Homo sapiens: one gene and its partners. The protein of the gene in region 1 purifies or fractionates together with the protein of each later gene. This does not show direct contact. Each region holds a gene or a part of one and is shown in the gene's direction. Other genes may lie near its edges. The genes, in order: TRMO, STAT5B and RHPN2.

Region 1 (11,282 bases):
GTAACAACTGCATAGTACTGTGCTATATGTATATTCAACCAGTCTCTATAAGGATGAACACTTAGGTTACTGCCAAGTTTTACTATTACAACAATGTTCAATGAACATCATTGGGAATAACATTTATTTAGTTAACATTTATCTGGTACTTTTCTATGTGCCAGACACCATATTAAATATTTTATGTGGTTTATTTTATTCAATGTTAAAAGCTCTACTGGATAAATAATACTCCCATTCTAAATATAAGGAAATGGAGGCACTGGAGGCTGAAGTTTGTCTGATTATTTCCTTTGAATCAACCCCTAGAAATCAAATTGTTGGGCCAAACGGTACCCAAATTTAAAGTTTGAATATACAGTCAGTCAGACTAGCCTCCAGAAATGTGGTAGCAATTCACACGAGACAGGTGCCTTTTCCCCACACCCTTGTCAGCACTGTACATTATGACATTTTAAAAATCCTTGTCTGTCTGCTAGGTTAAAAAATACACTTGATCGGCCGGGCGCGGTGGCTCACGCCTGTAATCCCAGCACGTTGGGAGGCCGAGGTGGGCGGATCACGAGGTCAGGAGATCGAGACCATTCTGGCTAACACGATGAAACCCCGTCTCTACTAAAATTACAAAAAATTAGCCGGGCGCGGTGGCGGGCGCCTGTAGTCCCAGCTACTCGGGAGGCTGAAGCAGGAGAATGGCGTGAACCCGGGAGGCGGAGCTTGCAGTGAGCAGAGATCGCGCCACTGCACTCCAGCCTGGGCGACAGAGCGAGACTCCGGCTCAAAAAAAAAAAAAAAAAAATACACTTGATCTTAGCCAAAAGGCTGAGAAGTGATAGGTTAAAAAATAAAACACACCTAATGGTCTTAATCACCCCCTTTTATAATTAATGTTACTAGACATCTTTTCAGGATTATTATAAATATAATTTTTTAAGAATTGCCTGTTTGAATCCTTATCCCATTCAACATTTTTTATTTCTTTTTTCCGATTAAAAAACCTCTTTAAATAATAGTTTTTACTATGTATATGTTGCAAATATTTTTCCAGTTGTCTTTGATTTGGTTTAACTTTGTTTATAGTGGTTTTCACCATATATAATTTTACTTTTTAGGTATTCGAACTTGCTAGTCTTTTCCTTTATGGTTTCTGGTCTCTGTGTTCTGCTTAGCATCCTAAGATTACTAAAAACACTATTATTTCTATAACTTTATGGTATTTAAAAATTTACCCCATCTACGGTTTGTTGTTGTGTATGTTGTAAAGCAGTTTTTCTTCCTCCAAATGGAGAGTCAATTGTCCCAATACAATTTATTGAATCTATTTTTTATTTTATTTGATTTTACAGAAATGAAAGAAAAACCCAAAGAAGAGCCAGGAATACCAGCAATTCTGAATGAGAGTCATCCAGAAAATGATGTCTATAGTTATGTTTTGTTTTAACAATGCTCAACCATAAAGTTGTGGTCCAATGGAACATACAGCTTAATAGTTTATGCGTGATTTTCTCAAAATATTGTAAAACTTTTGACAATGCTCATTAATATTATTTTTTCTATTTGTAGACCATATCTGAAAGAAATAACATTTTTTAAGGCTCTACCACATAGACAATATCATGCTAGAATGTGTGTGTGTGTGTGTGTGTGTGTGTGTGTATGTATGTATAGGTCGGGGAGAGGATAGTGGTGGGAACAGACAAATAAGGAAGCGGGGAGGACTGGATAATTGGTTTTCCCCCCTAAGAACATTTATTTACGTCTTAAGAGCAGATAAGTGACTAAGACTGAACACATACATTTTGTGGAGTATATAGTTTTCTTGTAAATGCTGTTCAATTATTAATGTAACAGTAGCATCAAAATTTTATTCAGGCTTTAGTTGACTCTTTTGGTCAGTTTTAACAATTCTCCTTAAAAGATATTTTGGAGTGATGAATGTAGTTTACTTTTGTATTTGAATTTTGATTTTCTATTTTTATTTTTTAAATATTGTATTTGTGCACAATGTACATTAAATCATTATTACATGCTTAACTGTGTGGATACCATCATGTTAAGAATTGCGGAGGTTAGAAGACCTATCTAACACCCCACGGTGGGGTTAATTTGGTTTCATGGGGAAATAAAACAGAAAACAAATAATCACAAAAGAAAATAGTAAGGGCTGGTGCCATTTGAATGGTAGATACAAACAGAGAATGCTCACTTTTTGCTGGAGTGACCTGAAAAAATTACACAGGCATGAAGCCTTGAAAGACGGAAAGTATTTGCATAGATGAGGATAGCAGCATTACTGTATGTGACAAAGAGAAGGGTGAGTTCAAAACATGTTCAAGAGAACTGCAGGCAAACTATGGTTAATGTAGAGTCCATATGAAATAGTAGTAGGCTTGCATGCTGAAAAGCTCATATTACTAGAGCATAGAATATTTTGCTTACCTAACCAAGAAATATATCACTTGTTAAAAATGGGGAATGAAGTCAGATTTTTGAACAATGGAATGGCAATTTCACTATTTTAGGAATATGGTAAATATGGTGATAATGGTAAAGATTAACTGAAAACGACAAGAGACCGGGGCAGGAATAGAAGCTGTTCTGGATGGGAAGATGTCTGAAAATCTACCCTGGTATTTTTTGTTTTCACTTTTCCTTCTGTTATTACAGAGGACTAAGGATATTTTTGCAAATAAAGTTTCATTCAGCAAGAACACACTTGCACAAGCTTTCCATATAGACACTGTGCTAGGTACTAGCTATATCAAAGAACAAGACAGGGTCACAGTCCCTCAGGCATTCATGGTATAATGAACATGAGAGAGCAGTGGTTCTTTCAACCCTTCTGGTACATTAGACTCACCTGGGAAGGTTTCAAAAATACATATATGTCCAGACTTCTCCCCCAGGGATTCAGATTCCCCCATCTAGCTGATGTACAGGCATAGGTATATTTATTTTTTAATTGTTTTATGCTTCAAATAATAGTTTTTGGAGGAATAATTTTAGAATTACAGAAAAGTTGTCATGATAGTACAAAAGTTACTATATACCTTTCGCCCAGTTTACACCAATGTTAACGTCTTACATAACCATGGGCCATTTGTCAAAACTAAGAAATCAGGATAGTTACACTACCATTAACTACAGACATTATTCCGTTTTCATGAATTTTTCCACTAATGTGCTTTGTCTGCTTCAGGGTCCAATCCAGGATATAGAATTGCATTTAGGATGTTTTTATTTTAAAAGCTCTCCTGACAATCCTAAAGTGGAGGTAGGGTTGAGAACCAATAGTACAGTGGGATGTTACAATATTGTTTCCCTCCTATCTGCCTACCCCCTTTTGTGTGTACATTAAATTTTTTACCATCAGGATGTATTCATTGCACAATTATTCATACCCCTATTATATTTATTACACAACATACTGAGGGCAGGGCAGCACAACCACATAATAGTTTCGTCTCTTTTTTTTTTTTTTTTTTTTGAGACGGAGTCTCACTCTGTCGCCCAGGCTGGAGTGCAGTGGCACCATCTCGGCTCACTGCAAGCTCCGCCTCCTGGGTTCACGACATTCTCCTGCCTCAGCCTCCCGACTAGCTGGGACTACAGGCGCCCGCCACCACGCTTGGCTATTTTTTTTTTTTTTTTGTATTTTTAGTAGACGGGGTTTCACCATGTTAGCCAGGATGGTCTCAATCTCCTGACCTCGTGATCCTCCTCGGCCTCCCAAAGTGCTGGGATTACAGGAGTGAGCCACCGCGCCCGGCCACAACCATATAATAGTTTCTTACCTCTCAATGACACTTCAACATTTATACTTTCACATAAACTATTTTATTTGATCTGTACAAAAGTATGTGAAATAGGCCAGGCGGTGATTATCACTCTCACTTAAAGATGAGGGAATAACATAGAGGGAAGGTACTCACCCAAAGTCACATCTGACTTCCTCAGTGCTTTTTTTTCTTCTTTGGAATGTGCTTCTGTCTCAATTTCACCTGCCAGAGTGGGCCAAAATTAGAGGAAAAAAAAGAGTAAACTGAAGTCTCAAGTTCTAACAGCGTTGCATTAAGATGGACCTTAAGAGATTTGCATACGTACAGTGCACAGGAGCACAAAGATGAGATGGGGAAGGAGAGGGAAAGAGGAATGCAGTACATTAGAGGAAGCAGAATTTCTCTCTCCACCTCTCGGGACCCTTTCTGCTTGCCCTCTTACATCACTCCCTGCATTCACACACCACTTCTGCTTTCTCACCATTCTTGTTTAAACATCACTGTGCATCTAAAATTCTTCTGGCGTTCTTCTTGGCTTAGAACCTTTAGGTGACAGAATTAAAGTTTTGCAAGAATCCTTCTAGCTTGACTTTGTGCTGCCCTCCTCTCATGTTAGGTTAGAAACCCATGAACCATATGATATTATAGCCAAAATGATGTGTGGGACGGTTCAAAGCTTTAGTTGATTCTCAAAGGGGTCCTTCACCCAAATGAGAGGTTAAGAATCACTCTACTGAGAAGTGTTTCTCAAAGTAGTACAAGCTGAAGACTACATAATTATTTAGGTCATTTCTTTAAGGCAGATTTCTAGGTCTTACATCTGGAGGAGAGGTTAAGTCTTATAAACTGCAAATAATCACATATAATTCCAGACAAGATAATAAGAACTTCAAATCATAGACTAAAAAATGTGCTGCATATTTAAGTTCCCGTTTTCAGTCAAGAGAAATTTTACCTATAAAAGAAGTAGCAATCTATTTCCCTAGTATATTCAAATCAGCTTTGCATTTCAGTACTTGTCACACTTGGTAATTACATATTTTTTTGTGTGATTAACAACGTCTACCATGCCCTCCAGGAGGGCAAATATCTCTTTAAATCTAGTCTTTCCACAGATAAAGCGGGACTATCATTTTTAGCAACACCACCATCTAGTGGCAAGCGCAGTAATTCTGGCCCAGTTTTATAAACACACACATACACACACACGCGCGCGCGCTATATATATATAAAACAATGATTTTCAAACTTGTTTCTCCAGCTGCACAGAGCTGTCCCTCCTAAAAAAAATGGCAGCCTTTTCCAAGTTGTCCTGTAAAAATGACCTGCCAAAAGACACTATATGAATTTGATCAGTTTTATCTTATTTTTTAAACCACAATCTTTAATTATTTGGCTCCTCCTGCTGGTTATTTTCTACCAGAAATCAATGACAAATGGACAGACATGGAAACATCTTTTCATGGTTGTTAGACTTTTCAATCTGTGACTCATATGCTTTTGAATATTTTATACTGCAGATGTTAACAGATAAAAAGATAAAAGATTTTAAAATTTCTCCCAGAAAGAGAATTATATACAGAGAAACTTACTAAAGGTGAGAGACAGCATTACAAGTGGGTAAAAGATAGGCTATCATTGCAAGGACAACTGGTCATTGCATGGGATTAAATGATTCTTGTTAGCTCTTAGCTTCTCAGAGCTGTCCAGAAACGACAATAATCCCCACAATGCACATGGCATGTTGACTCTTATAATTCCATTCTCACTTCAGTTCCGGTAAGGTGTGGAGCACAAGAAACAGTTCCCACTCCTTAACCCCTAGCACATAGTAGGGCTCCTTTATAACATCCACCACACTTGAAATAAGACTTATTTGGGGTTGTTTCTGACAAAGCATAACTTATATTATGGAAAAATTTCCCACCACCCAGGGATAATTTTTTTTTTTTTTTTTTTTTTTTTTTTTTTTTTTTTTTTGATACGAGGTCTCGCTCTGTCACCCAGGCTGGAGTGCAGTGGCGCGATCACGGTTCACTGCAGCCTCAAACTCCTGGGCTCAAGCGATCCTCCCGCCTCAATCTCCTGGGTAGCTGGGACCACAGGTGCCTGAGAATTCTTAACATTTCTTAACGTCCAGTCCTTCCGCTCTGTGTTAATTACATATACACATCCCTTAAAAATTAGGGTCATACTGGACGTATAGGTTACTTAATAATGTTTCGAGAGAGACATAGTTGCGAGTTCTTCATGGAGGTGTGTTCCCTCTCAAAAAGCGCGGGAAGCCGGAGTCGCATTCTACCCTAGGAGGGCGGGCAACTGTAGCAGCTGTGTGTAAGATAAACGAGATTGGGGTCCCGGAGGGGCACACGCCCGGGATAGGGTTCGAAGCCCCATGGAGAACTCAAAGCTTCCCTCAACGCCACCCTGCGCGCGCACATTCTCCTGGGTTCGCGGGACCTCGCCGGCGAGGCCACTGCGCATGCGTCAGGCATGGAGAGCGGAAGCGGAAGGTTGAATGCGTCGGGTGGGCACCTCAGCAACCAGTAGCCATGCGCGGCTTGGAGGAGTCGGGGCCTCGGCCTACAGCGACCCCGTGCGGCTGCGTTAAGCCGGCTCTGGAGACAGGTAACTTCCAACACCGGCGGTGCCACACTCTGGAGAGGTTTAGGCCCAGGCAGCGGACTTCGTTGCCGAGAGGGGTGTAAAACGCACGATCTGGAACTGACGTGCGTCATTCTTTTACCTACGGCGAAGGCACGGGTCACGTGCTGCGGAGACCACGTGATGTGCTTTGGCGAGCGGGATGACGTCATCTGGCTTGTTCCGCTTTGTTATAAGACTTGTACTGTCTGCGTAGTCTTGGCTCAGTAGCTGGAGCAGCTACGTGCAGCGTAGGGGCTTTTCTCTTAGGGGTTTCCTTGCCATAGCGTATGGGAGATGGTGTTAGGCGGGTTAGGAATTAATAAATGCCATAGAGAGGCATCCTGCGCTGTAGGAATGAGGACAGAGAAGGGGGAAAGTTTCTGGGGGAGAAAATAGTTTTAAATTGGGCCTAGAAAGACAAGGCATGAATTTGTTTCTCTTTACTCACACGTTTTCATAGAGGAATATATTAGCTTTAGAAACTGGAAAGCAAATGGAAGAAAATTAAAATAACCTGCCAGAGAAAGCCATTGTCAATATCTTGGTGTCTACCTTCCACGCTTGTTTCTTTGCATACACACTTGGAAAGTGAGGTACTATACGACCTGTTTAGTAACGTTAAAATAATTTAAAAAAAAATCTTAACAGGGCAGTTAATGTTAATTATAACACTTTGGGCCGGGCGCAGCGGCTCATGCCTGTAATCCCAGCACTTTGGGAGGCCGAGGTGGGCGGATCACGAGGTCAGGAGATCGAGACCATCCTGGCTAACACGGTGAAACCTCGTCTCTACTAAAAAATACAAAAAAATCAGCCGGGCGTGGTGGTGGGCTCCTGTAGTCCCAGCTACTCGGGAGGCTGAGGCAGGAGAATGGCATGAACCCGGGAGGCGGGCTTGCAGTGAGCCGAGATCGCGCCACTGCACTCCGGCCTGGGCGACAGAGCGAGACTCCGTCTCAAAAAAAAAAAAAAAAAATTAACACTTTGTTTTGTTATTATTAATTTTTGTAGAGGCAAGCTCTCACCGTGTTGCCCAGGCTGGTCTCAAACTCCTGGGCTTAAGCAATCCACCTGCCTTAGCCTCCCAAAGTTTTGGGATTACAGGCATGAGCCACTGCAACCAGCCTAACGCTTTGTTTTAGATATGTGCTCTAATTTAACCAGCTTCCTGTTACTGAGCATTTAAGTTATTGCCAGTTTGCATTGTTCTAAAAGAAAGCTCTTGAAGCCGAAATGTTTGTGTACATTCTAAAGTTTGAACTTTGTTAAATTTCTTGGAAGTGCTATTACCTGGCCAAATGTGCTTATTTAAAAAAAATTGTTGCACACTGCCGATTACAGGTCTCATATTTTGACAGGAAGGAAAACGCAGAAGCCAGGGCTCAGAAGTCTACACAGTATAGGTTTGGGGAGCTAGAAGTCTAAAGTGTTGGATGGAACAGGGAGGTGGGAACCTTTGGATTCTGATTGTGAAGAAACTTGAGTACCAGGCTAAGAAATACAAAGTCTGTTAACAGTGGAGAATATGAAAAGTTTAAAGTTAAAGAGTTAGCATAACACAAGAAACTCTAGGAGTGTTGAGGATTCGTCTAGAGTATTTTGAGAAGGGGAAGAACTTGCAGTGGGGACAGAAAGCCTAAGAAGGGTAATTTAATAGTACAGGTGGAAATGAAAAGGACCTGAACTTATTTTCAGAGCAAGACGTGTAGACAATCCTGTACACAAAAAACCCCACATTGATTGCTTGCTGGCTTTTTACTTATTACACAGTTAATACAGTTGTAATGTTTAAATGAGGAAAAAGCCTGAGCAGGGACTTTAAAAAGCACTCCTTGCTGGGCACCTTCTATTTTATTGGATGCTTTCCTATTTTATTAGTACTTTTACAGCTTTCCAAAGTAGGTAGTATCCCTTGTTTTATAGATGAGAAAACGGATTCAGAGAGAGAAGCTAGTTTTTCCCATGGTCACACAGCTAGTGTAGTGGCCCTGTGTTGTTTTTATCCTTTCTCCATTCTGAAACCAGTCCTAATTCTCTCATGCTCCTTTGAGGAACCACTTCTCCCCATTTCCATGAGGTTCTTGTGCTGGTTTTTGTCATACCTGTGCTTATTTATCTCTATCCCTGCAAAGGCACCTAGCTAGAATTGTTGATTTACTTGTCTTTCTCTGTCAATGTACTGGAAACCCTTGAGGACGAGAACTGGTTCATATTTGTACCCCAAGTCCTTAGCACAGTGCTTACCAAAATGGTAGGTGTTTACTGTTCTTTTGGGTTTTTGTTGTTGTCGTTTTGAGATAGGCAAGAAGAAGAAGACCAGAATTCCCCTTGGCAAACGGTGTCAGGTCTCTGCTTCAAATAGCATTTATATTTCATAGCATTATCCCCAGGAGGGCACAGAGAATGTATAAATATGTCCCAGAAGAGTTCAGACGTACTAGGATATGGATATTTGGTATTTTGAGAGTGGTCCCAAACATTTTAGAGTAGCAGAGTTAGAAGAACTCTTTCAAAGTAGCTCTTGAGTATACTTCCAGTTCATTGCTAATCCAGTGTTGTCTTGCTTATGTTCTTAAGGAGATGCACAAAGAGGATAGAAGTAAATCTAATTAGAGGATAGAAGTAAATCTAATTGGCAGCCACTTATATTTATCATATCATATGTGTAATCTGTGAAAAACAGGCATAGACTGATTTAGTGAAGTGATAAATCAGCTATAATATAAATTCCTAGGCCCCAAATCAAAGAGTCAAGGGCAGAAGTCTTTGATTACTTTACTGCTGACAGGACATTTCCCATGATATTGAAGCATGGTGTGATAGTCTCCTCAACTATTAAATTCCACTGTAGTAAGAGTTCTTGGTTTGTATCTTTTCTCCAAACTTAACACAATGTCTGGCAATTGTAGACACTTGGAAAATAGTGTTTCTCTCTTTCTTTTCTTTTCTTTCCTTTCTTTCCCTTTCCTCCCTTTCCTTTCTTTTCTTTCCTTTTTCTTTTCTCTTTTCTTTTCTTTTCTTTCTTTCTTTTTTTTTTCTTCTCTTTGTGGAGCAGAGCTAACTCATGGGCAGTGTGCCCAGAGTATCAGCCAGAAAATGTTTCTTGAACAAATGAAAAGAAGACACAGGGATTTTGTGGCTGGGCTAGGGGTCTTTTTTGGCCATTTATCTTCCAGACATAAAGAAGATATGCCAGGTCGTTTGGCCTCAGTTTCTTCATTTTTAAGATGTCTACTATATCTGTTCCATAGAAGCATGGATGAGGATTAAAAAGAAAAAACAAAAAACTAAAAACAATGCCTGTAAACATACTTGAACAAAAATTAAAGTTGTCAAAAACATACAGAGTATGTATGGATCTTAGCCTCATAATATTGAGAGAGAAAAAGCAAGTCTGAGAAGACAACTTACAGTTTGGTGCCAGTTTTTATAGATCTTAAAGACAAAAATCAATGAAATACTGTTTAGGCATGCATGTACATGTAACAAAATCATTCTCTAAAAGGAAGTGAATGATAAAGATCAAATTCAGGCTTCTGTTTATCTCAGAGGGAAAAGAAGGGTGTGAGGTAAGAGAAAAACAACCTAAAAAGAACAAGTCGTTAGTAACGCTCTAGTTTTTGGGATGGGTGGTGTATACACGGGGTTTCATCATATTATGCCGTATAACTTACATGTATGTTGCATATGATATTTATATATATCAAATAAAGTAGCTTCTAGAAGTGAAGAGTAATGAAAGATACTGTGAGGGACAGCCCCAGACCTATAGTCTTACTGCTTATGCTGGTAGGGTAGATTTAAGGAAGCAGGAAATAAAGTCTGAAGTGTCTTTATATCATCTCTCAGAAATTGATAACGCTGTCATGAAATGTGAGAATAATAAAAAAGTTATCAATAAATTCAAAGTGGTAGCCATGGAAACCTTGGACTTTATATTGATAGTGTCTGGCCATTTTTTTTCTTTTGAAATATGTTATTACTTAAAAAAATTGTGATTTTTTTTTTTTTTTGAGATGGAGTCTCGCTCACCTAGGTTGGAGTGCAGTGGCGTGATCTTGGCTCACTGCAACCTCTGCCTCCCAGGGTCAAGTGCTTCTCCTGACTCAGTTTCCTGAGTAGCTGGGACTCCAGGCATGCACCACCATGCCTGGCTAATTATTTTTTTTTTTTGTACTTCTAGTAGAGATGGGGTTTCACCATGTTGGCCAGGCTGGTCTCGAACTCCTGACCTCAGGTGATCTGCCCACCTCAGCCTCCCAAAGTGTTGGGATTACAGGCGTGAGCCACCGCGCCTGGCCTAATTTGTGATTATTGAAAAAACTTCAAATATTATAGAAATTACGAAGTTAAATTTAAAGGTAATTAAAAAATCTCACCACCCAGATTAACCACTGTTAAAAAAATTGGTGAATATTGGCCAGGTGTGGTGGCTCACACCTGTAATACTAGCACTTTGAGAGGCCGAGATGGGCAGATTGCTGGAGGTCAGGAGTTTAAGACCAGCCTGGCCAACATGGTAAAACCCCTTCTCTACAAAAAAAAAAAAAAAAATTAGATGGGCATGTTGGTGCGTGCCTATAATCCCAGCTACTTGGGAGACTGAGGCACGAGAGTCGCTTGAGCCTGGGAGGTGGAGATTGCAGTGAGCCGAGATTGTGCCACTGCACTCCAGTCTGGGCAACAGAGCAAGACTCTGTCTCAAAAAAACAAACACAAACAAAAAATAAAACACAGCATGTGGTGCATATCCTTCCAGATAGCTTTCCAAACATACCTGTATGTGTTTAAGAAGGTAAATATGTAACAAATTTCCATAAGTGGGATTATATTATATATATTATTATTTTACTTTTT
Region 2 (10,320 bases), on another chromosome or scaffold:
CCTCCTGAGCCCCTCGGGAGGCAGCCCCACCCCCACCACAGAGGGACTGAGAGCCCTTTCCCCTGCACCAGCCCCTCATCATGCATCTGTCCCTGTGTCCCCTGCAGCACGTTCATCATTGAGAAGCAGCCTCCTCAGGTCCTGAAGACCCAGACCAAGTTTGCAGCCACTGTGCGCCTGCTGGTGGGCGGGAAGCTGAACGTGCACATGAACCCCCCCCAGGTGAAGGCCACCATCATCAGTGAGCAGCAGGCCAAGTCTCTGCTCAAGAACGAGAACACCCGCAAGTAATTGTGCAGCTTCCTCTCATTCCCTGCTACTTGTCTCATGTCCTGGCAACAGGAAAAAAAGAATTCTGCCTCCTGTGTCAGATCCCTGTTTGCCCTTCTGGCCTCTTCTGGGCATCAGCAAAGGAATATAAGGAAGTTCTTGGGCCTGGTGTGGTGGCTCACACCTGTAATCCAAGCACTTTAAGAGGCCGAGGTGGGCAGATCACCTGAGGTCAGGAGTTCAAGACCAGCCTGGCCAACATGGTGAAACCCTGTCTCTACTAAAAATACAAAAAATTAGCCGGGCGTGGTGGCAGGCACCTGTAATCCCAGCCACTAGAGAGCCTGAGGCAGGAGAATCCCTTGAACCTGGGAGGCAGAGATTGCAGTGAGCTGAGATTGCAGTGAGCTGAGATCACGCCACTGCACTCCAGCCTGGGCAACAAGAGCAAAACTCCGTCACAAAAAAAAAAAAAAAAGTTCTCTTAGGAACTGTTTTCTGTGAAGATAGTTTGATCTTGTTTCATTTTGTAGAGATACGTCCGAGAAGATTACATGTATGTGTTATGTAGCTAACATTTCCTCTAAATGACGTACATTTTTAGCAAACTTCTCTATTTCCTGCTACCCCAAATTATATTATTTACTCCGCATGTCCTGAGACCCTGGCATGGGTTTGGAGCTGGTCTCTCTCTGATTTGCAGTGATTACAGTGGCGAGATCTTGAACAACTGCTGCGTCATGGAGTACCACCAAGCCACAGGCACCCTTAGTGCCCACTTCAGGAATATGGTGAGGGTGGAAGAAGAGGAAGAATGAATTTTTCCCTGGTCTTTGAGGGGAACAACTTATATCTTACGTTTCATCTTATGTTTCTTCTTTGTAGTCCCTGAAACGAATTAAGAGGTCAGACCGTCGTGGGGCAGAGTCGGTGACAGAAGAAAAATTTACAATCCTGTTTGAATCCCAGTTCAGTGTTGGTGGAAATGAGCTGGTTTTTCAAGTCAAGGTAAAGCCTTCCCTCAGCTCTGCGTGTGCGTGTGCGTGTGTGTGTGTGGTGTACTTTATGTTACAAAATATTTTTTTTTTATCACATAGCATCTTCTTCTTTTTGACTGTTGGTAAACTGAAAATGGACTGACCTCACCCTGAGAACTGTTTCACTTAGGTTCTCTTAAGACATGAACAGAGGCCAAGCACAGTGGCTCATGCTTGTAATCCCAGCACTTTGGTAGGTTGAGGCAGTCAGGTCACTTGAGGTCAAGAGTTCAAGACCAGCCTGGCTAACACAGTGAAACCCCATCTCTACTAAAAAGTACAAAAATTAGCCAGGCGTGGTGGCACGTGCCTATAATCCCAGCTACTCAGGAGAATCACTTGAACCTGGGAGGCTGAGGTTGTAATGAACCGAGATTGTGCCACTGCACTCCAGCCTGGGTGAAAGAGTGAGACCCTGTCTCAAAAAAAAAAAAAAAAGACATGAACAAGCAAGGCCCAGTGCAGTGGCTCACATCTGTAATCCTAACACTTTGGGAGGCCAAGGCAGGAGGATTGCTTGAGTTCAGGAGTTCCAGACCAGCCTGGAGCTGGTTGTGAGACCCCGTCTCAACAACAACAACAAATTAAAAAATAAAAAATAAAACATGAACAAACAATAATGAACTGAACTAGCTGGAGAGGTAGACTACAAAATGGATATGAGAAACATTACTTGGGATGAATTTGAGTAAAGGTTGTGGTAAGTTTTAAATTTGTTATTTGTATTTTCTTCCCAGAAATATCTCCAATAGTCTTTTCTCTCTCCTGTTCTCCATGTAACTTTGAGAAACTTTATCCTTCAGAAATATCTAAGCAACATTGCTTGTAAAATATTTAAAATTTCTAAGATTGTGCCAGTATGAAAAGTCATATTATTCCTGGGGCCATTTAGATTCTGTGTCTGAGAGGAACATTAACTGAAACTTGGAAAATAAAAGTGTTGTTATAATAAGAAAAAAAAAAAAGAGAGAAGGAGAAGAACTTGAGGCTCGTGGGCGCTCAGCCTTCTCTTGTGTCTTTTTAGACCCTGTCCCTGCCAGTGGTGGTGATCGTTCATGGCAGCCAGGACAACAATGCGACGGCCACTGTTCTCTGGGACAATGCTTTTGCAGAGCCTGTGAGTGTATTCCTCGGGCATGTGGGTCCCAAAATCAATGCCGGTGTCATGAATCTCATTTATGTATTATCCTTTTAAAAAGCATAGGAAAAGGCCGGGTGCAGTGACTCACACTTGTAATCCCAGCACTTTGGGAGGCCGAGGCGGTTGGATCACCTGAGGTCAGGAGTTCGAGACCAGCCTGGCCAACATAGCAAAATCCTGTTTCTATTAAAAAATACCGAAAAATTAGCTGGGTGTGGTGGCACATGCCTGTAGTCCCAGCTACTTGGGAGGCTGAGGCACGACAATCACTTGAACCCGAGCGGCAGAGGTTGCAGTGAGCCGAGATCGCACCACTGCACTCCAGCCTGGGTGACAGAGTGAGACTCCATCTCAATAATAAAAAAAAAGCATAGGAAAAAAGACGCTGTTTTCTTTAGTGGGAGGCAGAATAGAAAGAATGTGGAAAGTGGAAAGAACATGGGCTTGACATCGGGCCAGGGTTTGAACTGAGACTCCACCATTTCCTCACTCCATGACCACATGGGCAGTTCACTTTACCTCTCTGAGCCTGAGTTTCCAGCAAGTGTCTGCAGCACAGGGATACTCTTGCTCTACAGCATTGTTAGGAAGATTAAATTAGATAACATAGAAAATGCTTGCCACACAGTCAGTACTCAGTAAATATTATTTTGAATCCTTGGGTGAAACTATGAATGGGATTTGGGACTCCTAGGTTCACTCCAGAGGTTAGATCTCTCCAGAGGCTTACTTTAGCATAGAAGTTGCTTCATACCCTCTTCCTTTCAATAAATGAAGATGCTGTTAAATGTCTTTTCCAAATTTTAGTTTCTGTGATTCATTCTAGGTCTCATGAAGAATGAGATACTTTGCCTCAAGGAAGATATAATTTGGTGGATTTATGCACCCAAACGCTATCTGAATCCCACTAGCATGCTGCTCGATGAGCATTTTAAAGATCTCATAGGCTGGGTGCGGTGGCTCATGCCTATAATCCCAGCACTCCAGGAGGCCAAGGCAGGCAGATCCCTTGAGCTCCAGACTAGCCTAGGCAGCATAGCAAAATCCTGTCTCTACAAAAAATACCAAAAAATTAGCCAGGCATGGTACACCAGCCTCTAGTCCCAGCTACTTGGGGGGGGCTGAGGCGGGAGGATCGCCTGAGCCCAGGAGGTCCAGGCTGCAGTGAGCCAAGATTGTGCCACTGTACTCCAGCCTGGGTGACAAAGCGACACCCTGTCTCAAAGAAAAAAATTTTTTTAGTAGGCAAAGGTCATTTGTTACATATTTCCAATAGAGATTAGTCCATAAAAGCATGATAAAAGGGTTATCATTTGGGACATAAGAGCATGTCCTTCTCTAAGTATATCCAACAAACCTTGATTATGTTTTGTTTTGTGGCTGTTAGAATATAGGATTTGACTGTTAGTTCAACAGCTCATTTACAAAACAGCATGGACAGCATGGGTTACCTTCCAGTTGTGTGTAAAGAAGGTGAAATGGAACCTTCTGGCTCACGTGGAGAGGCTTAACGTTTCCCAACACTCCTCTTTAGAGAAAAAGTATTTTACTGCAAAGGTGAGATTTTTAAGAGATTTACCATACTTCACTTACAAACTCTGAATCAGAAGCTCCTTTTTGAAACTGTCTGTCTGCCTCTTGTCCTGATAAGCCTCCTAGATAAGATTGCCACATCTCTTGTTTCCTTCCCTGCCTGTCCACAGATCTCACTCTCTGTGTACCTTTGGCATCTCCTGCACCATGTAATTACTCAAGTATCTTGTCTAAATAAATAAGCATTTTTAACATTCTCAGCTATGTTAATGACTACTTACATCTTATGCTATTTTTTTTTTTTTAATTTTTTTGAGACAGAGTCTTGCTCTGTCACCCAGGCTGGAGTACAGTGGCATTATCTCGGCTCACTGCAGCTTCTGCCTTCTGGATTCAAGCGATTCTCCTGCCTCAGCCTCCCGAGAAGCTGGGATTACAGGTGCATGCCACCACGCCCAATTAATTTTTTATATTTTTAGTAGAGACCAGGTCTCACCATGTTGGCCAGGCTGGTCTCGAATTCTTGACCTCAAGTGATCCACCCACCTCGGCCTCCCAAAGTGCTGGGATTATAGGCATGAGCCACTGCACCCAGCCGACCTTATGCTATGTTAAAAAAAAGACTTTCAGCTGGGCACGGTGGCTCACACCTGTAATCCCAGCACTTTGGGAGGCCGAGGTGGGTGGATCATTTGAGGTCAGGAATTCGAGACCAGCTTGGCCAACATGGTGAGACTCTCATCTCTACTAAAAATACAAAAATTAGCTGGGCGTGGTGGTGCGTGCCTATGATCCCAGCTACTCGGGAGGCTGAGGCAGGAGAATTGCTTGAACCTGGGAGGCAGAGGTTGTAGTGACCTGAGATGGTGCCACTGCACTCCAGCCTGGGCAACACAGTGAGACTCTGTCTCAAAAAAATAAAAAATAAAAAATAAATAATAAAGACTTGTGGCCAGGCACAGTGGTTTATGCCTGCAATCCCAGCACTTTGGGAGGCCAAGGCAAGCGGATCTCTTGAGCCCAGGAATTTGAGGCCAGCCTTGTCAACATAGCAAAACCCTGTCTCTACAAAAAACACACAAATTAGCCAGGCATGGTGGTGCACGCCTGTAGTCCCAGCTGTTTGGGAGGCTGAGGTAGGATAATTACTTGAGCTAAGGAGGCAGAAGTTGCAATGAGCCAAGATTGGGCCACTGTACTCCAGCCTGGATGACAGAGCGAGACCTTACCTAAAAAAAAAAATAATTGTGGAAATTTATTCTCCATATATATTTGCCTATGTGTCCTGTGGGTCAAATAACATAAGAACATTGCAGCATTGTTAGTAATAGCTAAAGATGAGGCTGTAACACTGATGCCCATCTATGGGGGTCTGGTGAAATTTCTTTATGTGCTGATGGGAGGTCTCCCAGATAGAGGATTAAGTGAAAAGAGGAAGATGCAGAACATGTGGATTTTGTGCTGTCATTTGTGAAGAAAAGGAAAAGGTATATGTCATTGCTGGCATGCATAGAATATCTTTGGTGGGATACACAAGAAACTGTGTTAGGTGCCTTTAAAGAAAAGAACTGGGTTGCTGGGAGACAGGGATAGGGAGTGACTTCACTGTGTAGCCGTCTGTGCTTTTTGAATTTTAAATCATGTGAAAATCACCTATTGAAAAAAGTGTTTGTAACAAAATAAAATGGAGTACTATGGCTGAACGGGTTGAAAAGCAGTTTATTAAAAGTTAATCTTCTAACCTATTTCTCAATAAAGCCATCCAACTCAAAATTTCCACTCTTCCATACCAAGTTGTTTTACTTTGAGCTAGAATTCTTGGCAGAAGGAGTCGAGGGCAATGATTCCACGTGTGTACACACATGCCGACACGTGTGCACACATACGCACACTCTCTCTGTTTGTACCTAGAGGACCAGTCTTTCAGATTTCTAAATTCCCAAGGTGTTTACAATCTAAGAGCCAGACCTTGGTTATGTTTTGGTTTGTGGCCGTTAGAACATAGGATTTGACTGTTAGTTCAGCAGCTCATTTACAAAACAGCATGGATAGCATGGGTTACCTTCTAGTTGTGTGTAAAGAAGGTGAAACGGAACCTTCTGAATTTCACAGAACCGTGTACCCCAGCAGAGTCTGAATTTATCCTCAGGCCCTGCAAGACAAATGTGTGTAACCACTCCCAGCCATCAGCGTTTTTCTTTTGTGGCTTGAGGGAATAAATCATGCAACTGTTTTCTCATCAGATTCTGGCCTCTCTCCCTCTCAGGGCAGGGTGCCATTTGCCGTGCCTGACAAAGTGCTGTGGCCACAGCTGTGTGAGGCGCTCAACATGAAATTCAAGGCCGAAGTGCAGAGCAACCGGGGCCTGACCAAGGAGAACCTCGTGTTCCTGGCGCAGAAACTGTTCAACAACAGCAGCAGCCACCTGGAGGACTACAGTGGCCTGTCTGTGTCCTGGTCCCAGTTCAACAGGGTGAGGAGCCCAGCTGCCAGCCGCTGTTAGATCAGTCCTTCCCAACCAGATGCTCTCAGGAGTCTCCCTGCCCTGGGCCCTTATTCTTCATGTCTCTAATAAAATGTACCGAAAGTAATAGAAGCTTCTGACTAGATGGACAACTTGAGAGTTACCCAGGTCACGTGTAGAAAATTACATCTTTGCATATTTTAAATAAGTTGACCTTTGTCTACAGTTAATGCATTTTCTTCCTTTGTAAAGGAAATAGAGCAAAGCAGATGTTAACATAGCTCATGAGAAGCAAAGCTTTTGAGGGGATGCGAACTCTGGGCCTCTCTCCCCTTTACTCTCTTATGTTCCCCATGTGTAATGCCAGATCAGGCTCCTATGGGACCCTCAACCCACAAAGAGGGATGCTGATGAAAGAAACTCCTCCTCTAGCATCTGCTAATTCAGACGTCACTTTGATTTTATTTTTATTCATTTTTTTTTTTTGAGACAGAGTTTCGCTCTTGTTGCCCAGGCTGGACTGCAATGGCACGATCTTGGCTCACCGCAACCGCCGCCTCCTGGTTTCAAGCGATTCTCCTGCCTCAGCCTCCCGAGTAGCTGGGATTACAGGCATGCGGCACCACGCCCCGCAATTTTGTATTTTTAGTGGAGACGGGGTTTCTCCATGTTGGTCAGGCTGGTCTCGAACTCCCGACCTCAGGTGATCTGCCCGCCTCGGCCTCCCAAAGTGCTGGGATTACAGGCGTGAGTCCACTGTGCCCACCCTATTTATTTTTGTTTATTTATTTATTTTTGAGATGGTGTCTCGCTCTGTCACAAGGAGTGCAGTGGTACATTCTGGGCTCACTGCAACCTCCGTCTCCCAGATTCAAGTGATTCTCCTGTCTCAGCCTCCTGAGTAGCCGGGATTACAGGCACCCGCCACCATGTCCAGCCAATTTTTGTATTTTTAGTAGAGACGGGGTTTCACCATGTTGGCCAGGATGGTCTCAAACTCCTGACCTCAAGTGATCTGCCTACCTCAGCCTCCCAAAGTGCTGGGATTACAGACGTGAGCCACCATGCCCGGCTATCACCTTGATTTGAATTTAATTTTTGTTTCTTTTCCTACACCCCCCACCCCCAAGGTGTTTTAAATGTTTAATTTGGAGCCTAACAACGTGCATTTCTCAGAAGCTCCCAGGTGACACTGATGCTTCTGGTCACAGACCACACATCGAAACTAGCAAGGGACGGGTCAGCCCAGTCCCAGGTGAAAGTGTCTGTAGCAGGAGCCCACTGGGTGCTGGTAACTGCAGTTTGGTATTTTCCCCTTCTTCCCTCTTTTCCTCTCCATGGGGCCATTAGGTAAAACTCAGGTAGGCGGGGATATTTGTATGCCTCTGACAAGGGTAGATGTTTGTTTCCCATTTAATTTTTCCAATTAAATATGTGTATAATATTCCAAGTGTTACTCTGGTGTTCTTATGTTCACTGTTGTATCTCCAACCAGGAGAATTTACCAGGACGGAATTACACTTTCTGGCAATGGTTTGACGGTGTGATGGAAGTGTTAAAAAAACATCTCAAGCCTCATTGGAATGATGGGTGAGAATCATTATTTCTTAAGGCGCCGACAGAGTCTGAAGGTCTTCTCTCTGGCATCGTAAGTCACACTCTGCTTCTGTCCTTTGTCCTTGGTGATCCAGGGCCATTTTGGGGTTTGTAAACAAGCAACAGGCCCATGACCTACTCATTAACAAGCCAGATGGGACCTTCCTCCTGAGATTCAGTGACTCAGAAATTGGCGGCATCACCATTGCTTGGAAGTTTGATTCTCGTGAGTGCCCCTCCCTTCTTATGTCCAAAGTTAGCTGCTTTCGTTACAAAATTATTTTAACAAATAATTTAGTGGGTACTTACTATTTGTTGAGGTCAGTACTAATTATGGGAAACATAAATGTATAGCCATGACATACTCATAATAAGGCAGCCTATGAAAAATACTATTATGGGAAACACAATTGCTAATTTGGTTATACATGAAAGTATATGGCAGCATGGTTACACATGAACATTTAACCATGACATGGCTACCTATGATACAAGAGTCCGTGCAGAATCTCAGTTGCTTCCCTCTTAAAATGTTTGCCTTATTGTACTACTCTGCATAAAGCTTATTTCAGTGAAGAATTTGATGATTTGGAGTTCTTACAGTAGTAAAAATATTCCTTTATCCTAATTAACATATGGATATTGCCATCAACCATTTCTACCCAAGATGTTAGTTCTTTTCTTTTTTTGAAACAGGGTCTCACTCTTTTGCCCGGGCTGGAGTGCAGCGGCACAAACATGGCTCACTGCAGCCTTGACCTCCTGGCCTCAAGCAGTCCTCCTCCCTTAGCCTCCCGATTAGCTGGGACCACAGACGTGCACCACCACACCCATCTAATTTTTAAATTTTTTGTATGTTGCCCAGGCTGGTCTCGAACTCCTGGGCTCAAACAATCCCCCACTTTGGCTTCCCAAAGTATTGGGATTACGGGCTTGAGCCACTGCACCAGGGCATCAGGAAAGTTAGTTCTCTCCTCTGACCCTCACAATAAGGGTAGCTTGCTGGTTCATTTTCTGTGAATTAAAGTTTTTAATAACTTTTGGCTGGGTGCGGTGGCTCATGCCTGTAATCCCAGCACTTTGGGAGCCTCAGGCAGGAGGATCTCTTGAGGCCAGGAGTTCAAGCCCAGCTTGGGCAACATAGTAAGACCCTGTCTCTAAGTAAATAAATAAATAAATAAGTTAATTAGGTGGGCATGGTGGTGCTCATGGTGTGCGCCTGTAGTCCCAGCTACTCTGGAGGGTGAGGTGGGATGATCACTTGACCCTGGGAGTTCAAGGTTACAGTGAGTCATGATCACATCACTGTACTCCAGCCTGGGCAACAGAGTAAGACCCTGTCTCTTAAAAGAAAAAAAAAAAAAGGCTGGGTGCGGTGGCTCACGCCTGTAATCCCAGCACTTTGGGAGGCCAAGGCAGGCGGATCATGAGGTCAGGAGATCGAGACCATCCTGGCCATCACAGTGAAACCCCCGTCTCTACTAAAAACACAAAAAAATTAGCCGGGTGTAGTTGTGGGCACCTGTAGTCCCAGCTACTTGGGAGGCTGAGGCAGGAGAATGGCGTGAACCCGGGAGGCGGAGCTTGCAGTGAGCCGAGATCGCGCCACTGCACTCCAGCCTGGGCAACAGAGCAAGACTCCATCTCGAAAAAAAAAAAATTCATCACTTTTAATAGCTCTTATGCTTTCTCTGGTTGTGGGCATGCTTCCTAGCTTTTATATATCTTTGTATGGGAAATCAGGGATTGGGGGCCAGTAAAAACTGTTTCTTCTACTGAGGGCTAGAATACTGTTTGAACTTGAAACGTCTGAGATCATTGGATCTCTTGGGAAGTGATTTTTGTATTACCTGCTTATCTACCCATGGCTTTTATTTTTATTTATTTATTTATTTATTTATTTTTGAGATGGGGTCTCTGTCACCCAGGCTGGAGTGCAGTGTCATGATCTCAGCTCACTGCAACCTCCACCTCCCAGCTTCAAGCCATTCTCCTACCTCAGCATAGTACCTGGGACTACGGATGAGTGCCACCACACTTGGCTGATTTTTGTATTTTTAGTAGAGACAGGGTTCATCATGTTAGCCAGGCTGGTCTTGAACTCCTGACCTCAGGTGATCCACCTGCCTAGGCCTCCAAAAGTGTGGGATTACAGGCATGAGCCAACATGCCTGGCCCCTACCCATGGCTTTTAAAACTATTTCAGGCCGGGCACGGTGGCTCACGCCTGTAATCCCAGCACTTTGGGAGGCTGAGGTGGGTGGATCATGAGGTCAGGA
Region 3 (10,320 bases), on another chromosome or scaffold:
CAAAAATGAAATTAGCTTGTGGCACGTGCCTGTGGTCCCAGCTACTTGGGAGGCTGAAGTAGGAGGATTGCTTCAGCCTGGAGAAGTTGAGGCTGCAGTGAGCCGCGATCGCACCACTGCACTCCAGCCGAGGCAACAAAGTGAGACCCTGCCTCAAAGATAAAATAAAATAAAATAAAATAAAGTAAAATAAAATAAAATGCCTTTATAACATGGTTAAGGGTCTTCTTGGCAAAGGAAACCTGTATCTGGAGACTGTTATTGACAGTCCTACCCTCAGGATCTGTGCTGGGAAACTTGTCCGGGTCCTGAGGGAGGCCCAGAATTGCAAGTCTGAGCCCCTGAATAGCTGCAGTGTTTGCAGTATAGTTGAATGTATAGGCCATAGACTGGTCTCGAACTCCTGGGCTCAAGTGATTTACCTGCCTGGTCTTCACAAAGTGCTGGGATTACAGACGTGAGCCACGATGCGCAGACACAAAGACATTTTTAAGCAAAAAATTTACTTCAACTCTCACTTTTACTGAAGCAGCACAACATTTAAAAACATAGGCGTGTGTTGCAGTGGCTCACACCTGTAATCCCAGCACTTTGGGAGGCTGAGGCAGATGGATTGCTTGAGCCCAGGAGTTTGAGACCAGCCTGGGCAATGTGGTGAAACCCCATCTCTACTAAAAATACAAAAATTAGCTGCGCATGGTGGCACATGCCTGTAATCCCAGCTACTTGGGAGGCTGAGGCACGAGAATCACTTGAGCCTGGGAGGTGGAGGTTGCAGTGAGCCGAGATCGCAAGATTGCACTCTAGCCTGGGCAACAGGAGTGAAACTCTGTTTTTTGTTTTTTGTTTTTGTTTTTTTAAAAAAAAACTATGGCCGGGCACGGTGGCTGACATCTGTAATCCCAGCACTTTGGGAGGGCGAGGTGGGGGGATCACCTGAGGTCAGAAGTTTGAGACCAGCCTGACCAACATGGTGAAACTCTGTCTCTACCAAAAATACAACAATTAGCCAGACATTGTGGTGGGCGCCTGTAATCCCAGCTCCTTGAGAGGCTGAGGAAGGAGAATTGCGTGAACCCGGGAGGCAGAGGTTGCAGTGAGCCGAGATTGTGCCACTGCACTCCAGCCTGGGCTACAAAGAGAGACTCCGTATTAAAAAAAACTACATAAATTAAGAAAATAAATTCCCCCACTTTGAAAATCACTATAAGTTTTTCTTTATTCTGCCTTTTTAAAAATGGGTTCACAATTGACATATTACTATTATGCACACATATGGTTTTCAGCCACACTTTATAACATCTGACCTCATTTTTCTTTAAGGATTTTATCCTGGAACATTACAGTGAAGATGGCTATTTATATGAAGATGAAATTGCAGATCTTATGGATCTGAGACAAGTAAGTTTTTGTGTGCAGCAGAGAGGGGAGGGTGGCTTTTCCGAGTCTTCAGGGAACCCCATTATTGCACGCTTGTGGTCTTAACAGAATCGCGGGTGGATAGAGGTGATGGTTGGGGGGTGCTGGAATCATCCATTCCACTTGCTGCATAAGAAAACTGTAGAAGGAGGCCAGGCGCGGTGGTTCATGCCTGTGTAATCCCAGCACTTTGGGGTGTGGAGGTGGGCGGATCACCTGAGGTCAGGAGTTCCAGACCATCCTGGCCAACATGGTGAAACCCTGTCTCTACTAAAAATACAAAAATTAGCTGGGCGTGGTGGTGCATGCTGGTAATTCCAGCACTTTGGGAGGCTGAAGCGGGTGGAACACCTGAGGTCAGAAGTTTGAGACCAGACTGGCCAACATGGCAAAACCCTGTTTCTACTAAAAATACAAAAACAAGCCAGGCATGGTGCTACACGCCTGTAATCCCAGCTACTCGGGAGGCTGAGGCAGGAGAATCACTTGAACCTGGTAGGTGGAAGTTACAGTGAGCCAAGATCGCACCACTGCACTCCAGCTTGGGTGGGTGACAGCAAGACTCTGTCTCAAAAAAAAAAAAAAAAAAAGAAGGAAAACCATAGAAGGGGAGAGCCCTGCCTCAGGGCTGGGACTGGATTCCAGGATTTCTGACTTCCTCCCAGGTTCTTTCCACCCCTCCCAGAGTTTACGATGCCAGTAGCGAGGTCATCATACTGCAGAAATAGTTACAGGCACCTGCTGGTATGTGCAGGGCACCTTCTGGGAAGGGCCATCAGCTGTGTCCTCCTCTGCTCATGCCCTCTTGGGTTCTTTTCCTTGCAGGCTTGTCGGACGCCTAGCCGGGATGAGGCCGGGGTGGAACTGCTGATGACATACTTCATCCAGCTGGGCTTTGTCGAGAGTCGATTCTTCCCGCCCACACGGCAGATGGGACTCCTGTTCACCTGGTAGGTGCTTGAGGTCTGCGCTGGCGCTTCACGTGTTATGGCAGCCACAATTTTGGAGCCTCAGCATCACAGACGCCCCTCTGCGGGTGCCCCTGTGCACCTCAGCCCCCTTTCCTATCTTGCATTTATCTGGGGAAGTCTCAAAAGATGTCAATACATTGGTATTTATTTATGAAGGTGATCCGAGGGGAGATGGCTCCAACAGACTGTGGCCTCTTGCTTCTCAGAACAAGCGAGCCAAGGAGAAGAGACATTTTTCTTGCTCGTTGTATCACTGGGGAAGCACGGGGGCTCTGAAGTGGAATTAGCCAGAAGCGAGATTCTTATCTCAGATTGGACAGGGGCATGCATGTGTATGTGTGAGTGAGAGAGAGAGAGAAAATCAGGTCTTATCCAGTGAGGCAAAAGCACCAAACAGAAATAGATCAGGTTTCTTTTGAAATGGGGTCTCACTGTGTTGCCCAGGCTAGTCTTGAATTCCTAGGCTCAGGTGATATTTCTGCTTCAGCCTCCTGAATAGCTGGGACTATAGGCATGAGCTACTCACTCAGCTTAGATCAGATTTAAAAAAAGGAAGTAGAGCATTTGATTCTTCTCCACAATTGGTATTTTCAGACAAGATCAGGCACGTCAGGGTGGTATGGCCGTAGACCCAATTGGTATTTTCAAAGGTTAGTATAGTTTAAATACTTGGGAGGCCGGGTACAGTGGCTCACACCTGTAATGCCAACACTTTGGGAGGCCGAGGCAGGCAGATCACTTGAGCCCAGGAGTTTGAGACCAGCCTGGACAATGTGGCAAAACCCCATATCTACAAACAATACAAAAATTTGCTGGGTATGATGGTATGCACCTGTTAGTCCCAGCTACTTGTGAGGCTGAGGCAGGAGAATCACTTGAGCCCGGGAGGCGGAGGTTGCAGTGAACCGAGATCACACCACCGTACTCCAGCCTGGATGATAGGAGTGAAACCCTTTTTCAAACAAGAAAAAAAAAGGCTGGGCGTGGTGGTTCACACCTGTAATCCCAGCACTTTGGGAGGCCAAGGCAGGCAGATCACGAGGTCAGGAGTTCGAGACCAGCCTGTCCAATATGGTGAAACCCTGCTTCTAGTAAAAAGTACAAAAATTAGCAAGGCATAGTTGCGCGTGCCTTGTAGTCGCAGCTACTTGGGAGGCTGAGACAGGAGAATCGCCTGAACCCGGGAGGCAGAGGTTGCAATGAGCCAAGATCACACCACTGCACTCCAGCCTGGGTGACAGAGTGAGACTCTGTGTCAAAAAAAAAAAAAAACAACCTAAAAAAAAGTACTTTGGAGATGCTGCACCCCTTCTCTGAGTGTCGTTAGGAGTGTCAGTGAAAGGAGAACACATCCTAGAAGATCAGGGGCATATCAGAATTCAATGTTTCTACAGCTGATGGGTGGCTACTAATGCCTTCCTCATGGAAAGCAAAGGAAAGGGGGATGACTTTTCCTAACAATGCACCAGGCTGTCTGCATGGCCGAAAAGGCGAAAGGTGGTTTCTCCTTAGTCATGAATTAGGGAGAAGCTGTCTGCACACCCCCTGGTTCATGAGTAAACTTTAAAACAAGTCCTAGGGCCAGGTGCGGTGGCTCACGCCTGTAATCCTAGCATTTTGGGAGGCCGAGGTGGGTGGATCACCTGAGGTCAGGAGTTCAAGACCATCCTGACCAACACGGCGAAACCCTGTCTCTACTAAAAATACAAAAATTAGCTGGGCATGGTGGTGGGTGCCTGTAATCCCAGCTACTTGGGAGGTTGAGGCAGGAGAATTACTTGAATCCGGGAAGTGGAGGCTGCAGTGAGCTGAGATGGCGCCACTGCAGTCTAGCCTGGGCGAAAGAGCAAAACTCTGTCTCAAAAAATAAAAAATAAAAAAAATAAAAATAAAACAAGTCCTAGGCTGGGTGTGGTGGCTCATATCTGTAATCCCAGCAGGTTGGGAGGCCAAGGTGGGTGGATCGCTTGAGCCCAGGAGCTTGAGACCAGTCTAGGCAACACAGTGAGACCCTATCTCTACAAAACAATTAGAGAAAATTTGCCGGTCATGGGTGGTGCATGCCTGTAGTCCCACCTACTTGGGAGGCTCAGATGGGAGGATCTCTTAAGCCCAGGAGGTTGAGGCTGCAGTGAGTCATGATCATGCCACCGCACTCCAGCCTAGGCAACAGAGTGAGACTTTGTCTGAAAAAATAAAAAGTAAAACAAATTAAAACAAATCCTGAGTTTTTAGATTTCAGAAAGAATTATGAGGGGTTAGTAATTGCCATATTTCATTTAGGAGAAGCCATACCGCCTTGGCCTCCCAAAGTGCTGGGATTACTGGCATGAGCCACCGCTCCCAGCCCATTTTTTTTTTTTATAATTGAAGAACTTACCTGACACATCATTATCACCCAGAGTCCATAGTTTCCATTAGGGTTCATTCTTGCACTTGTGTATTCTGTGGCTTTTGGCCAACATAGAATGACAGTGATCCACCTTTGCAGTGTCATACAGAAGAGTTTCACTACTGGAAAAATCCTTTGTGCTCCCCCTCCCTCCCTCCCCCTAAGTCCTGGCAACCCCTGATCTTTCTTCTGTCTCCAGGGTTTTGGCTTTTCAGAATGTTGGAATCACACAGCGTATACAGTAGGTAGCAATGTTCAGGTTGGCTCTTTCACTTAGTAATGTTTCCTCTGCATCTTTTCATGGCTTGCTGGTTCATTTCTCCATTTTTAGTGCTGAGTAATATTCCATTGTCTGGATGTCCCATGGTGTGTTTATCCAGTTACCCCGTCAGATATTTTTGTGTGTGGCTGTGGCGGTCAGTGTGATTAGTCCTGTCATCTTGCTTGGAAACAAAAGCCTCAGTGCACATGCATTCTTGACTTTTACTGAAGAAATGAGTTTGTTGTTGTTGTTGTCGCCCAGGCTGGAGCACAGTGGTGCGATCTCAGCTCACTGCAACCTCCGCCTCTCGGGTTCAAGTGATTCTTCCGCCTCAGCCTCCTGAGTAGCTGAGATTACAGGCGCCCGCCACCATGCCTGGCTAATTTTTGTATTTTTGGTGGAGACTGGGTTTCACCATGTTGGCCACGCTGGTCTCAAACTCCTGACCTCAGGTGATCCACCTGCCTCGGCCTCCCAAAGTGCTGGCATTACAGGCGTGAGCCACCGCACCCAGCCAACCCAGGAGTTTGACAGCAGTTTGGGTAACATAGACCCCATCTCTACAAAAATTAAAAAAAAAAAAAAAGGCAGGTATGGTGGCATGCACCAGTAATGCCAGCTATTCTCATGAGGCTGAGGTGGGAGGATCAACTGAGCCCTAAAGTTGAAGGCTGCAGTAAGCTATGATCACACCACTGCACTCCAGCCTGGGCAACAGAGTGAGATATTGACTCTTAAAAAAAAAAAAAAAAAGAATTTTTTCCACTTGTAGCATTAACTAGCCAAGTAATCTGTATTCTCGGAATGCATTTCTTTCACATAGGTATGACTCTCTCACCGGGGTTCCGGTCAGCCAGCAGAACCTGCTGCTGGAGAAGGCCAGTGTCCTGTTCAACACTGGGGCCCTCTACACCCAGATTGGGACCCGGTGTGATCGGCAGACGCAGGCTGGGCTGGAGAGTGCCATAGATGCCTTTCAGAGAGCCGCAGGTATGTCTCCTCCAGGGCTGACCAGACGGAGCCTTGGCCCCACCCGGTGGCACCAGGGGACCCCCCACTGAAGAGAATCTACAGGTCATCCCTCGCAAGGGCCAGACCAGTCTCCAGCTCTGGTGTAACTTCCCATTAAGAAACTTGCTCCGGCCGGGCGCGGTGGCTCACGCCTGTAATCCCAGCACTTCGGGAGGCCAAAGCGGGTGGATCACAAGGTCAGGAGATCGAGGCCAGACTGCATCTCAAAAAAAAAAAAAAAAACTTGCTCGGTGGTTCAGACCTCAGTCTGGGATGGCTGATGTACATGGTGAATCCTGTGGCTGACGATCTTTTCCAGACAAGTGGCCCCTGGGATGGCAGTGCATAACTGTTTCTTTCAACACTGTCATGAAGAGCAGAATAACTTTTCCCAAATAGTGAAACTGTAGGCTTCTTTTTCTTGTATTAGGTGTACCTTATCAGTGCGTATTACTCTCCGTGCCTTTATTTATTTATTTATTTATTTATTTATTTATTTATTTATGAGATGGAGTTTTGCTCTTGTTGCACAGGCTGGAGCGCAGTGGCATGGTCTCGGCTCACTGCAACCTCCACCTCCTGGTTTCAAGCAATTCTCCTGCCTCAGCCTCCTGAGTAGCTGGGATTACAGGCACCCGCCACCACACCTGGCTAATTTTTGTATTTTTAGTAGAAATGGGGTTTCGCCATGCTGGCCAGGCTGGTCTCGAACTCCTGACCTCAGGTGTTCCGCCTGCCTCAGCCTCCCAGAATGCTGGGATTACAGGCATGAGCCACCGCACCCTGCCCCTCCATGCCTTTATATCACCTGCATTCTGCCAACTTCTCCAGCATGAGGTGGGTGTTCTCAACCCTTTGTCAAGTGATGCATTCAAAGGATGTCTCATAGCTCAGTTCCCTTCTTCTGGGAACTGTCTTTTGTTATTTTATTTTATTTATTTGTTTATTTTGAGATAGAGTCTTGCTCTTGTCACCCAGGCTGGAGTGCAGTGGCACAATCTCTGCTCACTACGACGTCTGCCTACTGGGTTCAAGTAATTCTTCTGCCTCAGCCTCCCAAGTAGCTGGGATTACAGGCGCCTGCCACCATGCCTGGCTAATTTTTGTATTTTTAGTAGAGATGAGGTTTTGCCATGTTGGCCAGGCTGGTCTCAAACTCCTGACCTCAGGTAATCTTAGTATGAGAATGAGGTGCGGTGTTGAGGAGAAAAGCAGCCTAGTGCTTACACCTATAGAGGACTGGGGTCAACAGACCCAGCGCTGTGGGTGAGCCTGGCTTGGCTCACCTGTGCCTGCGGGTTCTGCCTTGCTCCCCCATAGCAGGGCTGTGTCTGGGTCAGACTCCACGTGGGGATGGATGCAAGAGCAGGGCACAGTGTAGACCACAGTGTGTTCCCCACGCTAGCTCTATAGCGTGTTGCCTTCTGGGCTGATCATCGACATTCTGCTTTGGGGTGTGATCCCCTTCCACCCGTGTGGATCATTGTTTGATATCACTTTGCCCTGCAAGCTTGTGAAGAACCATAGCTTTGCCACTTTGACTCATCGTGAAATTTCTGATGTTATAATGATTGGTCCTACCAGCCTGGGCCACACAGGAGGACCCCATCTCTACAAAATATTTAAAAATTAGCCAGGCGTGGTGGTGTATGCCCGTAGTTCCAGCTACTCCAGTGGCTAAGACGGGAAGATCACTTAAGCCCAGGAGTTTGAGGCTGCAGTGAGCTATGATTGCACCACTGTACTCTAGCCTGGGTGACAGAGTAAGACTCCATCCCTAAAAAGAATTTTTTTTTTTTAAATTAATGAAATAGGCTGGGCATGGTGGCTCATGCCTGTAATCCCAGCACTTTAGGAGGCTGAGGTGGGTGGATTGCTGGAGCCCAGGAATTTGAGATCAGTCTGGGCAACAAGGCGAAACTCCATCTCTACAAAAAGTACAAAAGTTAGCTGGGCCTGGTGGTGCATGCCTGTAGTCTCAGCTACTTGGGAGGCTGAGACAGAAGGATCAGCCGAGGTTGTGGTAAGCCAAGATCGCGCCATTGCACTCCAGCTTGGGCGACAGAGCAAGACCCTGTCCCAAAAAATAATTAATTAATTAAAAAAATAAAAGATTGGTCTATCGGGATGAAGCGATATGCTAAGATTCCAAGTATGAGTTGATTTCTTTTGCTGTAAATCTTTTTTCTGGACTCATCTTTCTGAGGAATCTTAGGCAGGCACTCTGTGTCCTGTCTCTGAGATTATATCAATGGAGACAAACTATAGACGAAATGAAGCAAGTAGGAGAACAGTGGGGAGTGTGAGGGAACCCCCATGGAGCTCGCAGCTCAAAACAGCAGGTGCCATCCCTCCGCAGGGCAGGGCTTTTTTTTTTTTTTTTTTGCTCAGCAACAAAACCAGAGGAACCAGTTGGATGGGATTCATATGAGAGATTCTATTTCAGTTCCAGATTGATTGTCAGTTAGCGCTTTGGACAGTTAATTTTCTAAACTACAAAGAAGTCAGAGGAAGGCTGCAGCATGAAAATTTCCATTGGAGCAGACGGATTGAGATTTTTTTTTTTTTTTTTTTTTTTTTGAGACAGAATCTCACTCTGTCGCCCAGGCTGGAGTGCAGTGGCGAGATCTCGGCTCACTGCAGCCTCTGCTTCCCGGGTTCAAGTGATTCTCCTGCCTCAGCCTCCGGAGTAGCTGGGATTATAGGCGTGCACCACCACACCTGGCTAATTTTGTATTTTTGGTAGAGATGGGCTTTTGCCATGTTGGCCAGGCTGGTCTTGAACTCCTGACCTCAGGTGATCCGCCCACCTCGGCCTCCCAAAGTGCTGGGATTAGAGGCATGAGCCACCACGCCTGGCCAGAATAGATCTTTCTTGAGGTCCAGGGGAAAAGCCCTGGACTGCTGAATGACTCAGATCTTATGTGTGAGCCTGGTCCCCTGTGAGCCCCTTAGTCCTTCTGCCTGCCGTCTGCTTGCATCTCCATACCTGTCGTGATGGAATTTTGTCCCAGGTGACACAGGAGTTGTGGGGAGCAGGCTGGTTTCTTTACTCAATAGAGATGTGTTTTGGAAGGTAATCCAATTTTTAAAAATTGGGTTAAAAGGCTGGGTGGGGTGGCTCACGCCTGTTATCCCAGCACTTTCAGTGGCCGAGGCAGGCAGATCACCTGAGGTCAGGAGTTCGAGACCAGCCTGGCCAACATGGTGAAACCCCGTCTGTACTAAAAATACAAAAATTAGCTGGGTGTGGTGGTGGACACCTGTAATCCCTGCTACTTGGGAGGCTGAGGCAGGAGGATCGCTTGAACCTGGGAGGCAGAGGTTGCAGTGAACTGAAATCACACCACTGCACTCCAGCCTGGGTGTTTATTTATAAATAAATAAATAAATAGTGTTAAAATATACATATATAACTTAAAATGTACTATTTTAACCAGTTTTTTTATTATAGTAAAATAACACAGAACATAAAATTACCATTTTAATTATTATCTTAAATTTTAAAAATTTTAAAATTATCCTGCCAACCAGAAGCACATTTTAACCATTTTTAAGTGTGCAGTTCAATGGCATTAAGTGCATTTGTACATTCATAGTGTTGTGCAGCCATTACCACTAAACATCTCCAGAAGTTAAAAACTTTTTTTGTTGGTTAGGCAAGGTGGCTCACACCTGTAATCTCAGCACTTTGGGAGGCTGAGTCAGGAGGATCACTTGAATCCAAGAGTGGAGACCAGTCTGAGCAACATAGGGACACCCCATCTGTACAAAAAATTTTAAAATTAGCTTGGTGTAGGGTGGCACATGGCTGTAGTCCCAGCTCTTCAGGAGACTGAGGTGGGAGGACCGCTTGAGCCCAGGAGTTTGAGGCTGCAGTGAGCCATGATTGTGCCACCGCACTCCAGTCTGGGCAACAGAGTGTGATCTTGTCTCAAAAATAAATAAAATAAATACATTTTTAAAAAGTATATATTTTTTAAGAGACAGGGGTCTCAGTACGTTGCCCAGGCTGGTCTTGAACTCTTAATGTCAAGCAACCCTCCCACCTCAGCCTCCTTTATAGCTGGGATTACAGGCAGCAGCCCCTGTGCCCAGCTATCTCCGGAACTTTTTCATCATCCAAAGCAAAGCTCTGTACTCAGTTAAACAATAACTTCCCATTGCCCGCTTTTCCAGCCCCAGCTAACCTCTATTCTCCTTTCTATTTCTGTGAATTTGACTATTCCGGGTACCTTATCTAAATGGAATCCTACAATATTGGT

The links.
Region 2: the proteins of TRMO (region 1) and STAT5B purify together in Homo sapiens (affinity purification with mass spectrometry; 2 studies listed by BioGRID and IntAct, with this or other methods). This does not show direct contact.
Region 3: the proteins of TRMO (region 1) and RHPN2 purify together in Homo sapiens (affinity purification with mass spectrometry; 3 studies listed by BioGRID and IntAct, with this or other methods). This does not show direct contact.

Annotation. Positions count from the first base shown.
Region 1 is NC_000009.12:97,917,543-97,928,824, reverse strand, and holds the start of TRMO (tRNA (adenine(37)-N6)-methyltransferase), read left to right. Parts: upstream 1-6,324; 5' UTR 6,325-6,331; coding exon 6,332-6,407; intron 6,408-6,643; exon of another isoform or gene 6,644-7,018; intron 7,019-11,282. Other genes in the region: HEMGN (hemogen), read left to right, coding at 1,347-1,441. UniProt on the Homo sapiens protein: S-adenosyl-L-methionine-dependent methyltransferase responsible for the addition of the methyl group in the formation of N6-methyl-N6-threonylcarbamoyladenosine at position 37 (m(6)t(6)A37) of the tRNA anticodon loop of tRNA(Ser)(GCU).
Region 2 is NC_000017.11:42,208,118-42,218,437, reverse strand, and holds part of STAT5B (signal transducer and activator of transcription 5B), read left to right. Parts: intron 1-107; coding exon 108-287; intron 288-973; coding exon 974-1,061; intron 1,062-1,155; coding exon 1,156-1,278; intron 1,279-2,331; coding exon 2,332-2,424; intron 2,425-3,835; coding exon of another isoform or gene 3,836-3,856; exon of another isoform or gene 3,857-3,906; intron 3,907-6,247; coding exon 6,248-6,454; intron 6,455-7,940; coding exon 7,941-8,035; intron 8,036-8,136; coding exon 8,137-8,267; intron 8,268-10,320. UniProt on the Homo sapiens protein: Carries out a dual function: signal transduction and activation of transcription. Mediates cellular responses to the cytokine KITLG/SCF and other growth factors. Binds to the GAS element and activates PRL-induced transcription.
Region 3 is NC_000019.10:33,003,728-33,014,047, reverse strand, and holds part of RHPN2 (rhophilin-2), read left to right. Parts: intron 1-1,323; coding exon 1,324-1,401; intron 1,402-2,244; coding exon 2,245-2,369; intron 2,370-5,867; coding exon 5,868-6,034; intron 6,035-10,320. UniProt on the Homo sapiens protein: Binds specifically to GTP-Rho. May function in a Rho pathway to limit stress fiber formation and/or increase the turnover of F-actin structures in the absence of high levels of RhoA activity.